Homo sapiens: one gene and its partner. The gene in region 1 interacts genetically with each later gene. Each region holds a gene or a part of one and is shown on either strand. Other genes may lie near its edges.

The links.
Region 2: changes in TMED2 (region 1) and RAB1A are lethal when combined (synthetic lethality), as found in Homo sapiens cells (one study listed by BioGRID).

What each region holds. Positions count from the first base shown.
Region 1 is NC_000012.12:123,594,315-123,599,150, forward strand, and holds the end of TMED2 (transmembrane emp24 domain-containing protein 2 isoform 1 precursor), read left to right. Parts: intron 1-2,290; coding exon 2,291-2,415; 3' UTR 2,416-4,268; downstream 4,269-4,836. UniProt on the Homo sapiens protein: Involved in vesicular protein trafficking. Mainly functions in the early secretory pathway but also in post-Golgi membranes.
Region 2 is NC_000002.12:65,086,354-65,092,411, reverse strand, and holds the end of RAB1A (ras-related protein Rab-1A), read left to right. Parts: intron 1-1,333; coding exon 1,334-1,429; intron 1,430-3,341; coding exon 3,342-3,473; intron 3,474-3,721; coding exon 3,722-3,919; 3' UTR 3,920-5,558; downstream 5,559-6,058. UniProt on the Homo sapiens protein: The small GTPases Rab are key regulators of intracellular membrane trafficking, from the formation of transport vesicles to their fusion with membranes.

The DNA of each region.
Region 1 (4,836 bases):
TAGTAGAGACGGGGTTTCACTGTGTTAGCCAGGATGGTCTCGATCTCCTGACCTCGTGATCCACCCGCCTCGACCTCACAAAGTGCTGGGATTACAGGCATGAGCCACTGTGCCCAGCCTACATAGTAATTAAAAGCTAAGGCTATAGAATTTGACTGGAGAGTTGGACACAATGGCTTGTGCCTGTAGTCTTAGCTGCTTCTGAGCCTGAGGCAGGAGGATTGTTTGAGGTCAGGAGCTTGAGACCAACCTGGGCAACACGAGACCGTTTTTAAAAAAATAAAATAAATTGGCCAGGCGTGATGGCTCATGCCTATAATCCCAGCACTTTGGGAGGCCGAGGTGGGTGGATCACCTGAGGTCGGGAGTTCGAGACCAGCCTGACTAACATGGAGAAACCGCATCTCTACTAAAAATACAAAATTAGTCAGGTATGGTGGTACATGTCTGTAAGCTCAGCTACTTGGGAGGCTGAGGCAGGAGAATCGCTTGAACCCAGGAGGTGGAGGTTGCAGTGAGCTGAGATCGCGTCATTGCACTCCAGCCTGGGCAACAAGAGTGAAACTCTGTCTCAAAACATAAAAAATAAAATAATAATAATAATAAAATACATTTAAAAATAAAAAGAATTTGGCCAGGCGTGGTGGCTCATGCCTATAATCCCAGCACTTTGGGAGGCCGAGGCAGGCAGATCACCTGAGGTTAAGAGTTCAAGACCAGCCTGACCAACATGGTGAAGCCCTATCTCTACTAAAAATACAAAAATTAGCCAGGCATGGGGGTGTGCACGTGTAATCCCAGCTACTCAGGAGTCTGAGACAGGAGAATCACTTGAACCCAGGAGGCAGAGGTTGCAGTGAGCTGAGATTGCGCCACTGCCCTCCAGCCTGGGTGACAGTGAGACTCTGACTCAAAAAAAAGTAAGTAAATAAAAAGAATTTGATCAGAAACTTGAATGTAACAAATAGAGTATAGTAAATATAGAGTAGGTGTGGATTTTACTTTAAGGATCAAATCCTTAGTTTGAGAGCAGGACAGATGAGCATAGTTTGTCTTGTATTTGATGGTCTGGTAGTAACTGTCAGTATGGATCCATATAACTGAGTAACCTCTTCCATTGAGAACAATTGACAAGTACACAGGTGCTCAACAAATATTTGTAACATATTTGGGGAAAAAGACACTCAGACTGCCATATTTTGATGTTGTAAATAATTGCATTTTGGATAACTGTGATTTTGAAATAATTCCTTAATTTTTTTAGAAGTCAGTTTTCTGATTCAGCAAATTGGATACTAATACAGGACGTTTCAATGGTGAGGGAGAAAGATGGTTGTATTGGGTTTTAACCCTAGAATTATGACCTTGGGCAAGTCACATTTTCTTCTCTGCTCCCCATATACAAGCAGAATGGACTTGGCTGTACCCAGTGAATCTTTAAGGTTTCTTTTAAAAATCTTTGCTTCTACTTTGGGAGGCTGAGGCAGGAGGATCAGTTGAGGCCAGGAGTTCAAGACCAACTTGGGCAACATAGCAAGACCCTTTCTCTACAAAAACAGAAAAAATTAGTCAAATGGGCTGGTGCATACCTGTACTCCCAGCTACTCAGGAGGCTGAGGTGGCAGGATTGCTTGAGTACAGTTCAAGGTTGCAGTGAACTATGATTGTGTCATGGCATTCCAGCCTGGGCAACAGAGCAAACAAAAAAGTCTTTGCTTTGGAGTATGTTGAGTTGCTTGGAGACAAAAGTATTTAGAGTATAGGTGACCCATAGGTTACAATGACTTCACTTAGAAATTTTCAGCTTTATGATGGTGCAAAAGTGATGTGCATTCAGAAGAAACTGAGCATCAAGTACCCATGCAACCATTCTGTTTTTTACTTTCAGTGCAGTGTTCACTAACTTGATAAATAAAATAGAAAATAATAATAAAATGCAGTTTAACGTGTATGAGATACACAACACTTTATTATAAAATAATCTTTGTGTTGTTAGATGCTTTTGCTCAACTGTAGGCTAATGTAAGTGTTCTGATCGTGTTTTACGTAGGCTAGGCTAAGCTATGATGTTTGCTAGGTTAGGTGTATTAAATATATTTTTGACTTATGTATTTTCAACATAAGCTGGGTTTATTGGGATGTAACCCCATCGTAAGTTGAGGAACATCTATTCTATGAGTGGTGTACACAATATTACTTTCACACAGAGTGAAGACTAAAATATTTATGATGCCTATGTCTTTTTGGGGGAGAATTGTTAAATTTTGTTTGTTTGTTTTGTCCTCAACAGTCAACGACAACACAAACAGCAGAGTGGTCCTTTGGTCCTTCTTTGAAGCTCTTGTTCTAGTTGCCATGACATTGGGACAGATCTACTACCTGAAGAGATTTTTTGAAGTCCGGAGAGTTGTTTAAAAAGCCTCTTCCTGATGATCCCAACTCAGAATTCACTGTTTACCAAACACCTTGGTCATAATAATGTCATTAGTTTCTCCATTTTTATTTTCTGAACTGTACATTCACAACTTATGTTTCTTTGAGATTAATAGATATTGGGGGAAAAACGCCTTTTTAGGAAAATTATAGTGAAAATTTGACAGTTGATTGGCATAATTTCTTGTTTGAATGCTGCCTCCATTATATAGGTCCTTCCAGGAACTCAAACACTGTAAGTGAAATATGGGAGTATAGTTTTTATTATTTCTTCTTTTCCTTTTGTTTTCATAATATAATGCAGTTTGTTCAGGAAATCAGCACAAAGCCTGATAGTACTTTACTAAAATGACTGCATTCTTTGGATTCCTTCAGTCTATGGTTCAAGTCACTAAAGATTCATTTTTGTTGAGTCCTTATGAGAAACAGCAGTATGAATCTTGACGGTTTCTGCCCGTCCTAATGGCAGAGCTCTCTGACTTGGGTGTATGCTGCCAGGCTGGGTACTTTCATACTTTGTTTTCTTGTTTTGCTTTAAAACTACGACTCAGCATACATTTTCCCACATACATTTTTACATTGTACCTTAGGACTCAGTCATCTCCACTTAAATTGATGACACAAGCAGCTAATAACCATTTCTGGGTTTCTGCCTAACCCCCTAATTGTCTGTTAAAGCCAATTCTCTGGGTGTCCCAGTGAGTGGTGGCTTTTTTTCTTTCCACATTGGCACATTCACTTCTCCCACTCTTGGCATGTAAGAAATAAGCATTTACATAATTGGAAAAATCTGGATTTCTGATGCCAAAGGGTTAAAGCTTCTTGGATTTCATTTCATTGATATACAGCCACTATTTTATTTTTGATCAGTGGCCTTTGGGCCACTGTTCAGGGTACTGACCATCAGTGTCAGCATTAGGGTTTTGGTTTTTGTTTCTTTTGGGTCTTTCTTTTTTGGCACATGTGAATCTTGTTTTGTGTAAAATGAAATTACTTTCTCTTGTTCTCTGATGATGGGTTTAAAATTAAAAGAGCATCCGGTTTTGGTATGGGGATGATCCAGGATTATGTTGTGACTGATACATATTAGTTACTTGTGCTTTTTTTTTTTTTTTTGGATCTTTGCAAGGGCAAAACTACAAGTAACGAGTTTTATATAATTAATTTAAATTTGTTACAGGTTTTCATGTTCAGGATAAACCATACTTCCACCTTGGGTGAGAACACTTGCAACAGTTTATTAATGAGGTGACTTTCACCTTAGGACAACTGTTGCATGCCAAGTTTTTTGTGTGTGTGAAACACTTCAAAACTGATTTAAAAGATGTAAATTTAAAATTGGTTGTATCTAATATGCCCCAGGTTCGGTAAATAAACAATTCTTTTTAAAAACAGTATTCTGTGTTTTATATATTGACAGCTAATCCACATTTTTTACACACCAACTTTCTGTTCTTATTTGACATGAGACATGTTCATGTTTTCTGAGTATTTATACCTATTACGTCTGTTACTTTTTAATTCTATAAACTTGAGGATAGTGAATGGTACCAAGTTTTAGTTTCTGCGTAGGTTTTCCAGTGTGGCTTCTCTGATGGATCAGTGCTAAAATCTTAAGTATTTTTCTATTTGGGAAAAAAGGGTTGAATTATTTTCACTTGCCCACGTAGTTTATGAATGTGGGAAATAGCTTCAAAGACAGATTAAATGATTTGCCCAAGGCCACAGAAAAGAGTGAAAGGTGGAACCGGAGACTAGATCACCACCTGTAGAAACTGTTCTTCCTCTGTGAAACTAACGGCCTGCTGGTAATAAAAGTAGCTACCATTTCTTGAGTACTGTGTAATGTCTCGATCTAGTACTAAGCACTTTACTTGGTCTGTCTTATTCATGCTTCAAAACTGCCATTACCTTGGGTAAAACCATTTTGGAAGTGAGGAGGAAAACAGGCTTGGAAAGGGTCTTAAGGTCAGAAAACTAGTAGGTAGTAGAGCCCAGAAGACACACACAGATATGTAATTTCCCTGTGCCTTTGCTTTCAGAACTGTCTGTGAAGTCTCCCACCTTTTCTTTTTTTGGAGACAGGATCTCACTCTGTTCCCAGGTTGGCTTGATCTCTGCTCACTGAAGCCTCAACCTCCCGGGCTCAAGTGATCCTACCACCTCAGCTCTCCAAGTAGCTGGGACTACATTTTTTGTTTTTTAAAGACAGGGTCTTGCTTTGTTACCTGGACTGGAGTGCAGTGGCACAAACATGGCTCACTGGAGCCTTAACCTCTCAAGTGATCCTCTCATCTCAGCCTCCCGAGTAGCTGGGACCACAGGCATGCACCACCACGCCTAGCTAATTAAAAAATTATTTTTGTAGAGGCAGAGTCTCCTGTATGTTGCCCAGGCTGGCCT
Region 2 (6,058 bases), on another chromosome or scaffold:
ACTGTTAGGTGACTCTCCCTAATATTAAATAACCAGGAACCTGGATTTGATGTTTTGAAGTCAGGGTAGCTTGATCCTCGAGTTCATGCTTCCTCCAAGGATACACTGAAAGACTTTGAGCCTCTTTTTTTTTTTTTCTCTTTTTTTGAGACAGGATCTGGCTCTCTTGCCCAGAGTGCAGTGGTGTGATCTCAGCTCACTGCAACCTCTGCCTCCTGGGCTCAAGCGATTCTGCCTCAGCCTCTCGAGTAGCTGGGACCACAGGCGCACGCCAGCATACTTGGCTAATTTTTGGATTTTTAGTAGAGACAGGGTTTCACCATGTTGGTCAGGCTGGTCTCGAACTCCTGAGCTCGTAATCCGCCCGTCTCGGCCCCACAAAGTGCTGGGATTACAGGCGTGAGCCACCGTACCCAGTCCCAACAGTTTTTTAAAACCCAGAACTATAATGCAATAATGTTAGCATTTGTTTTGGGAGTTTGAGCCTAAATGGTTGAAGTGCAGTAAATTGTTCTTAAAATACGTTTTATGAAAGTATTTGGAGTCATCTTCCTTACATTTTTTTCTCTAGGATGAAGACAACACCTAGCCAGGCATGGTGGCTCATGCCAGTAATGCCAGCACTTTGGGAGAATGAGTTAGGATAATTGCTTGAGTCCAGGAATTTGAGACCAGCCTGGGCAATGTAGCGAGACTCTGTCTCTACAAAAAAGAAAAAATTAGCCGGGTGTGGTGGCATGTGCCTGTAGTCCCAGCTACTCAGGAGGCTCAGGTGGAAGGATTGCTTGAGGTGGGAGGTTGAGGCTGCAGCGAGCCATGATCATGCCACTGTACTCAGCCTGGATGACAGAATGAGACGCTGCTTGAGAGGGGAAAAAAAAGACACCTGCTTGGGATGATTAAAGTTCTGTCTTGACTGGTAGTTATTTGAATTAGGTCCCTCCAGTGCTTTTAATCATGGTAGAATGTGCTAGCAAGTGAGTTTGTCTTACATGGAAGAGTTCTGTGTTCAAGGGCTTTCGGCCAGTGGCATTCCTAAACACAGTGTTAAAGGCGGTAGGGAATGTGAAAAGTATGACATAGTTCCTGCTCTCAACAGCTTGTAATTTTAGTATTATTATCGTAAGCTCAATTGTAGGTACTACTTCTTTTCTGGACTTTCAGGTGCTTATTACCGTGCAATTTAGTGGTATGAGTTGAGGACTAATGTTTCTATATCACATCCTGATAATCTCCACAGTTATGAAAACTAAACTATTTCCCCTCCCTCCTACACTTTTCCCCAACTTTATTTTAATGGAATTGTTTGGATTTCTTGATTGTTTTGTAATAGTGGGACACAGCAGGCCAGGAAAGATTTCGAACAATCACCTCCAGTTATTACAGAGGAGCCCATGGCATCATAGTTGTGTATGATGTGACAGATCAGGTAAGTTCCAAGAGGAGATTGTGTTACAGTGACCAAGTAGGAAGCCATTATTTGATTAATGTCAGATTCATTTACTACTTCATATATAAGCCATCAGTATTAATTTTATGGCAGAAAACTTTGTCCACTCTCAAATATAAATGTGAATCACTTAAAAGACATTTGTTTTCCTGTAATAAATAAAAGATTAGTAATTAGTTTTACGTTTGCTTTCAAGGGATTCTGGTTGTATTTATTGTCAACTAAATAACTTTGATCAAATAGCCAAGACTCTAACATATAGGCAAGAGTTTGTAGGGAATCGTGAGTTGCTTGGCTTATACTGTGTTCTTGGTGTTAAGTATTAACAGGAATATGGCCTGGTAATTAGAACTTGTCCATCAGAATTGCCAAAAGTGGGATTCGGGGGTCTCTGCCTATGGAGGATGTGGTTCAGAAATAAAGAATTTGAATAGGATAAGCTGTAGGAGGATCTTAGTATGAGAATGAGTATCTGAAGATTAGCTGTGAGAGAGGGCAGAGCGATGGAGGGAACAATGTGGGACAGTGTGAAGCATGTGATCCAGGGGCCATAACTTTTTTTGTTACTATTTTTTTAAATCAGAAACTTAGATTTCAGTGTCCTTTCTATCAAAGAAAAGGACAAAAGATAAACGTTCAAAATTGGAATTTATTTTTCTTTTGGCAAATGTTAAATCTCACCTCTAATGAGAAATCATAGCTAATTAGGAGATAACTTACATGTAAGCATTTAGATTCAGTGCCATTAGAAGTGCTGGGTGGGTGATATCTGCAGGAGAAAAAAATGATGCTAGTTTAAAAAATCTCTACTATTACCGTGAAATATTTTTAAATGAAAACTTTCGTCCTCTAAATATGACTGTGGAAAAGAAAATGAGTATATTTAATAACATCTTTTGACATCTCTAGTAGTAACAGTAGGTCATCTTATTCATAAACCAAAATTTTACCAAATTTCAGGCCAGGCGCAGTGGCTCACGCCTGTAATCCCAGAACTTTGGGAGGCCGAGGCGGGCGGATCACCTGAGGTCAGGAGTTAGAGACTAGCCTCGCCAACATGGCAAAATCCCATCTCTAGTAAAAATACAAAAATTAGCCAGGCGTGGGGGCCCGTGCCTGTAATCCTAGCCACTTGGGAGGCTGAGACAGGAGAATCGCTTGAACCCAGCGGGCAGAGGTTGCAGTGAGCCGAGATCGCGCCATTGCACTCCAGCCTGGATGACAGAACAAGACTTTGTCTCAAAAAAAAAAAAAAAAAATTAATCAAATTTCAAAACCAGGTTTTGTAGTACATTTAAATTGCATATTCCAAAGCAGTTGGGTTTGCCTGCGTTGCAGTTTAATATTAAGCTATACTTCCCTTTCAAATAAGGTATTTTCATCGTTAAGCCTGTAAATTCTAGTTTGTCATTGTTTAGATATTTATAGTCATTTTAATATATCTGTTTACGGCCAGCTGCAATGGCTAACACCTGTAAACTCAGCACTTTTTGAGGCCAAGGTGGGCCGATTGAGCTCAGGAGTTCGAGACCAGCCTGGGCAACATAGTGAAACTCCATCTATACAAAAAATCCAAAAAAAAAAAGACAGGTGTGGTGGCATGTGCCTGTAGTCCCAGCTATCCCGGAGGCGGAGGCGGGAGGATGGCTTGAGCTTGGGAGGTCGAGGGTGCAGTGAGCTGTGATTGTGCCACTGCACTCCGGCCTAGGTGACAGAGCAAGACCCTGTCTCAAAAAAAAAAATCTCTTCACTCCTTAGCAGTGGTTATTTTGTAGCTAGAGTTGTCTCACTAGCTCTTTGTTATTTGTCTGTTAGGTCAGGAACGATGTTTCTGTTTATTCCAGAACTATATTATCGAACTATATTATCAGTCTTTCAAATGTCTTTTTAGGAGTCCTTCAATAATGTTAAACAGTGGCTGCAGGAAATAGATCGTTATGCCAGTGAAAATGTCAACAAATTGTTGGTAGGGAACAAATGTGATCTGACCACAAAGAAAGTAGTAGACTACACAACAGCGAAGGTATGTTTAAAGTTTAATTTTCATACTGAATTTGAAGGTGTTGAATTATGTATGGGTTCTGCAGTAACAGTAAGGCCACAGCCTTTTAAAAATATGTGCACTAGAATACTGTGACAGTGACAATTTGTGTAGCATCTGTTTGGATCCAATGAACTTAGTTCCTCACGCTCCATTATGGATGGTAGAAATGCACTAAGAATTAGTGAAAAAGATTTTTCAGTGTTAATTGTGCCTCATTATTCTCTTAGGAATTTGCTGATTCCCTTGGAATTCCGTTTTTGGAAACCAGTGCTAAGAATGCAACGAATGTAGAACAGTCTTTCATGACGATGGCAGCTGAGATTAAAAAGCGAATGGGTCCCGGAGCAACAGCTGGTGGTGCTGAGAAGTCCAATGTTAAAATTCAGAGCACTCCAGTCAAGCAGTCAGGTGGAGGTTGCTGCTAAAATTTGCCTCCATCCTTTTCTCACAGCAATGAATTTGCAATCTGAACCCAAGTGAAAAAACAAAATTGCCTGAATTGTACTGTATGTAGCTGCACTACAACAGATTCTTACCGTCTCCACAAAGGTCAGAGATTGTAAATGGTCAATACTGACTTTTTTTTTATTCCCTTGACTCAAGACAGCTAACTTCATTTTCAGAACTGTTTTAAACCTTTGTGTGCTGGTTTATAAAATAATGTGTGTAATCCTTGTTGCTTTCCTGATACCAGACTGTTTCCCGTGGTTGGTTAGAATATATTTTGTTTTGATGTTTATATTGGCATGTTTAGATGTCAGGTTTAGTCTTCTGAAGATGAAGTTCAGCCATTTTGTATCAAACAGCACAAGCAGTGTCTGTCACTTTCCATGCATAAAGTTTAGTGAGATGTTATATGTAAGATCTGATTTGCTAGTTCTTCCTTGTAGAGTTATAAATGGAAAGATTACACTATCTGATTAATAGTTTCTTCATACTCTGCATATAATTTGTGGCTGCAGAATATTGTAATTTGTTGCACACTATGTAACAAAACAACTGAAGATATGTTTAATAAATATTGTACTTATTGGAAGTAATATCAAACTGTATGGTGATAAGTATTGTTTTGATTCTTATGGTTAAAGGGAAATAGAGCCTTGCATTATATTCAACACAGCCATTTGTGTGTGCACAATGCAAACTAAGGTATTCTAGACCTATCTTAGAGCAGCATCCAGTATTTGCTTTCTAGATAATATGCCCAATAACATGACCTAGAGGGGCTTCTGTGCTGTGTAGGGATTTAACCAACTTCAGTGGTTCAGGGAGCTCAAACTATATGTAAAACAAGTTTAGAATGTATGCTATCTAGCCCGTTATCTCTGATCCTTCTCTAAAACCATTTGAAATAGCTTCATTGATCAACATTTCATAAATGCATCTGTGGTAGAGGTAGAAAGCAGCACCTTTCCTAATTGGCAAATGATCAGACTAATGTGTGCTAATGTTTTTCTTCCATGCTTTCAGTCAGATTCAACTATTTTATCCTCCACAGTTGCTTAACTTGGTGTTGGAGGAGGGTTTAAGCATTAAGATAGGAAGCAGGAAATTTGATTGCTCTAAATTTAGAAATTATATCCCTAAAAATTAAAACATGAATACTGGGTGGTAATGATAATTGAGGCAAATGTATTTATTTTGGTGACATTTTGCATATATGAAGATTTTCTGAAATAGGACCTTCAAGATCCTAGGGGGTTTTGTTTGGTTTTTAATTGTGAGGAATAAAAAATCTTCTGCCCACACTGGCATTTTAAGGTGACTGAGGTCAAACGTTGTTTCCTTAGGTTGAAATAGCAGCCAAAACATTCTTCACGCAGGGGCTTGGGATATGGCTGCTGGCAACACATTTTGTTGTGGGCTCCTTAATTTAATGATAAAATTTAAGCTAAACACAAGCCAAAAATGAATAGGTTTTTTTAATTTTTATTTTTCACTAAACAGGCAATTGAAATACATGGTACAAAAATAAGTGGTAAGATAATTGTAAAATGAAATGGACAGAATATTCAATTTTCCATCTATGAAAATTTCACAATAAAAATCATAGTTTACTTTGTATTATAGGCGTGCTTGGTGGATCTATTCATCCTCACATAAGGCAACTGACAAATTCCTGAAGTTACCAATAGTTATTTTGGTGAAGATCTTTAATGCTTCAGAAGTTTTGTTTTTGCCTTAATACAGTATAAAGGGGGAAAGAGTTCAGAAACTATTTTCTAAAGTAGCTAAATGACACAAAACAAATGTCAAGATACTGTGATGCCATGCCGTGCACTTCATTTTTACACAGTAAAAGTTGTTTAAATTGTCAGCTTATTCTTGGTGAGTTAGCGGAAACATTACATGAACTTAAGATGAGCATATTTACAGACTTAAGTTTGGAAAATTCCAGCGTTCTTTTCCCCATGGCAGTAAAGATTGGGATTTACAACAAATTTCAGCATGCCTTAAGATTTGCTTCTATGTATACGCCAATAAATGTGGTTCTGGAAAAAATATATACCCCTTTATACCCCCATTTTCAAGTACAAACGGTTCAAAGCTACTACAGGTTTTAA